Linked DNA regions of Homo sapiens: region 1 is linked to region 2. Evidence: fine-mapped expression QTL. A gene starts in region 2. The other region holds a variant in brackets. All regions are shown on one strand. Distances are between the middles of the regions.

What was found. PIP is the estimated chance that this variant, and not a neighbour inherited with it, causes the effect. A credible set is the group of variants that fine-mapping cannot tell apart.
Region 1: its variant is the best candidate, but not a certain one, in a credible set for the expression of LBHD1 in whole blood (INTERVAL, PIP 0.79).

The regions. Positions count from the first base shown.
Region 1 is chr11:62,643,994-62,646,493 of GRCh38, reverse strand. The region is part of intron 1 of GANAB (glucosidase II alpha subunit); the gene reads left to right. Among named protein-coding and RNA genes, the nearest start is that of GANAB, 1.4 kb to the left of the region's middle. RefSeq lists enhancers at 400-559, 875-1,682. The variant G/A (reference allele first, on the strand shown) is at 1,022.
Region 2 is chr11:62,670,598-62,673,614 of GRCh38, reverse strand. It overlaps LBHD1 (LBH domain containing 1), which reads left to right and starts at 1,348. Exons shown (of 7, transcript NM_024099.5): 1 at 1,348-2,051. UQCC3 (ubiquinol-cytochrome c reductase complex assembly factor 3) reads right to left here and starts at 1,942. Exons shown (of 2, transcript NM_001085372.3): 1 at 1,750-1,942; 2 at 1-1,662. The coding sequence starts at 1,869. The coding sequence ends at 1,501. RefSeq lists a silencer at 1,139-1,268 and enhancers at 1,509-1,668, 1,035-1,776, 1,777-2,516, 2,517-3,017.

The DNA of each region.
Region 1 (2,500 bases), 27 kb after region 2:
TCCTGTGTGTCTCTTGACACTCTGCCACCCCCGGCCTCGTGAGGAACCTTTGTTCCTCTGGAGGCGGCCTCAGACGCCTCCGGTCTCCCCGTGGTAGATCCGAGCGACGCTGGGGGCCTTGCCTGTGGGGCTCCGGGCTCCCGCCCGGCGGTTTAGTAAAGCCACAGCTGTGCGTCTTTCTTGGTCTTGGCCGCTCTCAGCCGCCGCCCTCCTTTGGCTGCTTGCGGCGGTCAACGTCGCCGCCCCCTTCCTGCAGTGCGCGGGGTCGTCGGGGCGGGGGAAAAGATGCGGCCTGGCCTCGGGGAATGCAGCCTGCGGCCCCGCGGCCCCTCGGCTGAGCTGGAAGCACCGGGCCAGCAGTTAAGCCTGTACTACCCTTCTGGCTCTACCCTGTAGAGCTCCGAATCCTCCTCTGCCCTTGTCTTCACGTGAGCACCAGCTCTGGCTTAGTTCAGTGTCCACGGTCGCTGGGCACGGCCCAGGGTCCAGTAAGCTCACGGCGTGGATGGTGTTGCTCAAACACAACATGTAATCGAATGGCTTGGTCCACGCTCTCGGGTTTATATTACTGGGGAAAAAAAAAGATTCGAAACATATCACCAGTGCCACAAATGTTTACTAGGACCTAACGGATATACTGGGGTGGGGTAGGCGTGTACTCTCCAAAGCGATGAAGAAAGCGTGGATCATAAACTCAGTTCCCTCGGAGCCTGTGATCTGAAACAATAAATGCGTGCAACTTGCCCTGCAGCTTATTCCTGACTTTGGCCTATGAACACCTCTCTTGGGGTGGTCAAGGCCGCCGTGAATTCCTTAGGGCCCTCCAACAGGTCATATCTGAAAGATGCTTTAGGAATCCTATCTCCATTGGCATCTTTCCGAACCAATTTTACAGACTGTGCAAATAGGGCCCCAGAGGGTATTTAACTCACTGTACGTCTTTTTTTTTTTTTTTTGAGAGACAGAGTCTCGCTCTGTTGCCCAGGCTGGAGTGCAGTGGCGAGATCTCGGCTCACTGCAA[G/A]CTCCGCCTCCTGGGTTCACGCCATTCTCCTGCCTCAGCCTCCCGAGTAGCTGGGACTACAGGCACCCGCCACCACGCCTGGCTATTTTTTTGTATTTTTAGTAGAGACGGGGTTTCACTATGTTGGTGAGGATGATCTCGATCTCTTGACCTCGTGATCCACCCGCCTCGGCCTCCCAAAGTGCTGGGATTACAGGCGTGAGCCACCGCGCCCGGCCTCAACTCACTGTACTTCTATTTACTGCTGCTTTTGGCAGGTGGACGTGGGTCAGTGGCCAAGAGTGCCTGTTGCAGTCACTCAGGTCACTCACTGCAGGACCTGTGCCGCATGCCTTGCTATGGAGTTTTGTGGTAGCATTTATTCTGCTTGGCCTATTAAACCACAGTGCCTAGTGTTTTCTTCATTTTTCTGTCTGGCCTGCTGTGGAACAGTTGTTTCGTACATTCCTCTGGAGCTGGAGGAGAGTCCTGTGATGAGATCATAGTACACTCTGTGATCTCATTTCTGGTAATTTTCTTTTAGCTTTCAAGCAGATGCTGAAGCTAATGCTAGATAACTAGATACAATGTGTATAATAGACCCTGTCTTTAGTTACCTTATTATAGGTTGTCAAATTTTATTTATTTATTTATTTGTTTGTTTACTTATTGAAACAGGGTCTCGCTCTGTTGCCTAGGATGGAGTGCAGGGGTGCAATCTCGGCTTACTCCAGCTTCCACCTCCCGAGTTCAAGCGATTCTCCTGCCTCATCCTCCCGAGTCCTGGGATTACAGACGTGTGCCACCGTGCCCAGCTAATTTTTGTATTTTTAGTAGACACCCCATTGACCAGTCTTAATTAATTTACTTTTTTGAGACAGAGTCTTGTGCTGTGGCCCAGGCTGGAGAGCAGTGGTGCAATCGTAGCTCATGCAGCCTCAAACTCTTGCGTTCAGGCAGTCCTCCGGCTTCAGCCTCCTGATTAGCTGGGACTACAGGCACCTGCCACCATGCCTTGCTACTCTTTTTTTTTTTTAAGTAGAGACGAGGTCTTGCTGTGTTGCCCAATCTTCCCTTTTTGACCTCCCAAAGTGCTAGGATTATAGACGTGAGCCACTGTGCCTGGCTGGTTGTAAAACTTTATTGCTTAGAAGAACCCTCCCACCCCCAGTTTGAAACACTTTCTCAGAGTATGCTCGTATTCTGCCCATATCAGTGTCACTGGGAGAGCATGTTTAAAATGTGGTGTCAGCCGGGCACGATGGCTCACACCTGTAATCCCAGCACTTTGGGAGGCCGAGGCTGGCGAATCACCTGAGGTTGGGAGTTCGAGACCAGCCTGACCAACACAGAGAAACCCCGTCTCTACTAAAAATACAAAATTAGCCGAGTGTGGTGGCACGCGCCTGTAATCCCAGCTACTTGGGAGGCAGAGGCAGGAGAATTGCTTGAACCCGCGAGGCAGAGGTTGCGGTGAGCCAAGATCGTGCCATTGCACTC
Region 2 (3,017 bases):
TGCTTGGGAACCACAGGATAGACAAAAGAGGAGCAACTTGGTTGACTAGGCTGTGGGGCTTTGACCCCACTTATTTAATCCCCTCAGTGGCAGCTCCAATAAATCCTGACCAGATCCAGAGATTGGGGACCACTTTACATTTCTAAATTAATGTTTTACAATAATCCTCGTAGTTATGACCTTTCATAGAACAGGGCTGAGGTTTGTAACATGCTGGAGTTCAACCAGGATCTGTGACTCAAAGCACACTCCTTTTACTACTAGTAAGTCAGCCTCCTAAGCTTGTTTAACCAGAGGTTAAATAATGGCCACAGAAAGCATTGTGGCATATGTTAAGTGCTAGATGCCCCTCCAATCTCGCTCCAAGGACAGGAGTCCTGAGTGTCCACTATAGGCATCCATTACTTCAAGACTTCCCAGGATAGTTCAGATTTCAAGAATGTCCCACGGTTATCCCTGGAAGTACACTCCAACCTGACACCACATGACCTGTTTTGAAAATGTGGTTGGCCGGGCGCAGTGGCTCACGCCTCTAATCCCAGCACTTTGGGAGGCTGAGACGGGTGAACTGCCTGAGGTCAGGAGTTCGAGATCAGCCTGGCCACATGGTGAAACCCGCCTCTACTAAAACTACTAATATCAGCCGGGCGTGGTTGCGGACGCCTGTAATCCCAGCTACATGGGAGGCTGAGTAAGGAGAACAGCTTGAACCCAGGAGGCAGAGGTTGCAGTGAGCCAAGATTGCGCCACTGCACTCCTGCCTGGGTGACAAGAGCAAGACTCCATCTCAAAAAAAAGAAAAAATGTGGCCGCGGCAGGGCGAGGTGGTTCACGCCTGTAATCCCAGCCCTTTGGGAGGCCGAGGCGGGCGGATCACCTGGGTCTGGAGTTCGAGACCAGTCTAGCCAACATGGTGAACCCTGTCTCAACTAAAAACACAAAAGTTAGCTGGGCTTGGTGGCGCGCACTTGTGATCCCGGCTACTCGGGAAGCTGAGGCAGGAGAATTGCTGGAACCCAGGGGCGGAGGTTGCAGTGAGCCGAGATCGTGCCACTGCACTCCAGCCTGGGTGACATTGACTCCGTCTCAAAAAAAAAAAAAAAAAAAAAATGTGGTCAGATACCTATCGGGATCAGCCTCTTCTGGTGGGGTGGGACAGGCAGCAGCTCCAGGCCGCGCCCCCAGCACCGACCACGCGTCTCTAAGCATTGGTAGGTGTCGACTGCAGGGCTCATTCTGGGTGGAGGAACATGATTTTATTGGTTCTTTCAGTTCACCACATCCGACTCGCGTCTCGGCCCTGGCCCGCCTTGCGGACCTTAAAGCAGTCAGTCCAGGGTTTGGGGGAAACGTGCTCACCCGACGGCAGCTCACAGGACCCCGGAGAGTCCTGGCATGGTATCTCGGTCCGGACTCTCCGCTGGGCCCACGAAGGAGAAAGGCTGCCTCGGATTCCTGCGCCCAAGCCAAGGTCCGGCGCCCACGGAGGCAAGTCCGGTCTCACGGTGACCTCCCGCCGGCGCCGCCTTCGCCGCCAACCATCCAGTTCTTCCTCCAGGCCACGTTCTCCTGCGTGGTCGCTGCCTCCTGCAGAGTGGCCAGCAATAGCTGCTGGGTCCTGGCCGCCTCCTCCCTGCTCCTTGGGTCCTGCAGTGGCATCTCCTGAGGGCAGGAAGGGGAGTTCGCAGGAGCTCCAGTCCGGGGCTCTCCACCCGCCCACCCTTCCTCGGGACTACCAGTTGCTTCTACCTTTAGCATTTCCTGCTTCCGCCGCTCTCCCGGGGTCACGATAACGAGGAGCGCGTAGCCCACGCCAGCCCCTGCGCCCAGCATTGCGACTGAGATCAGCATTTTCCGCAAGGAATCCATGGCCGCCTGCACAGCCAGCGGAGCGCCCACGGGAGCTCCCCGCAGCCGCAAGCTGTTGCCGCGCGGTCTCACTACCCCTTGGCGCAGGCTAGAGCGCCCTATAGCAGAAACCATAGATAAGCGGCCGGCTAGAGAGGACCTGCTCGAGGAAACGTTTGGAATCCGGAGCGCTTGGATCTCAGGTTTAGCTGAGGGGGTTGAGGTGTCCAAGAAGTGCTGGCACCAAGGGCTGAGCGCGGGGACCCTGTGTCCTCAATTCCGGGGTGGGATTGCTAGGGGGAGAGTGCGTGTCTTCATGGTTGCCGTGGGTTTTATGATTGCCCATTTTTCTGTCTTCCGACGTTTCCCGATCAGTAGAGGCCCGAGCTGTGCTCTGTGGTTTCCTGCAGTCACCCGCGCGTTTTCAACACAGCGCATGGAGGGCATCTACACACATACACATCCCTCTCCATCCCCTCAACTCTGGAACAAACACTCAAAGTCAAGTATACTGGTTGGAGAAATGGGTAATAGTTACTTATCTTTAACATTTATTTTACAAACAACCTATTCCTTTTCTCGTCATGGTACACACTTGGTATTGTTTGGGTTTTTTTTTGGTTTTGTTGTTGTTGTTAGTGTGTGGGCGTGGTTTTGTTTGTTTTTGGAGACAAGGTCTCGCTCTGTCGCCCAGGGCTGGAGTGCAGTGGCGCGATCATGGCTCACTGAAGCCTCGACTTCCAGGGCCCAAGCGATCCTCCTGCCTCAACCTCCCGGATAGCTGGGATTACAGGCGTGCACCACCACGCCCGGCTGGTATTGCTTTTTGTTTTGCTTCGTTTTCTTTTTTGCTTTTTGAGACAGAGTCTCACTCTGTTGCCCAGCTGGAGTGCAGTGGCGTGATCTCGGCTCACTGCAAGCTCTGCCTCCCGGGTTCACGCCATTCTCCTGCCTCAGCCTCCCGAGTAGCTGGGACTACAGGCGCCCGCCACCACGGCCGGCTAATTTTTTGTATTTTTAGTAGAGAAAGAGTTTCACTATGTAGGTCAGGCTGGTCTCGAACTCCTGACCTCGTGATCCGCCCAATCCGCCCACCTCGGCCTCCCAAAGTGCTGGGATTACAGGTGTGAGCCACCGCGCCCGGCTGTTTTGCTTTGTTTTCAACCACT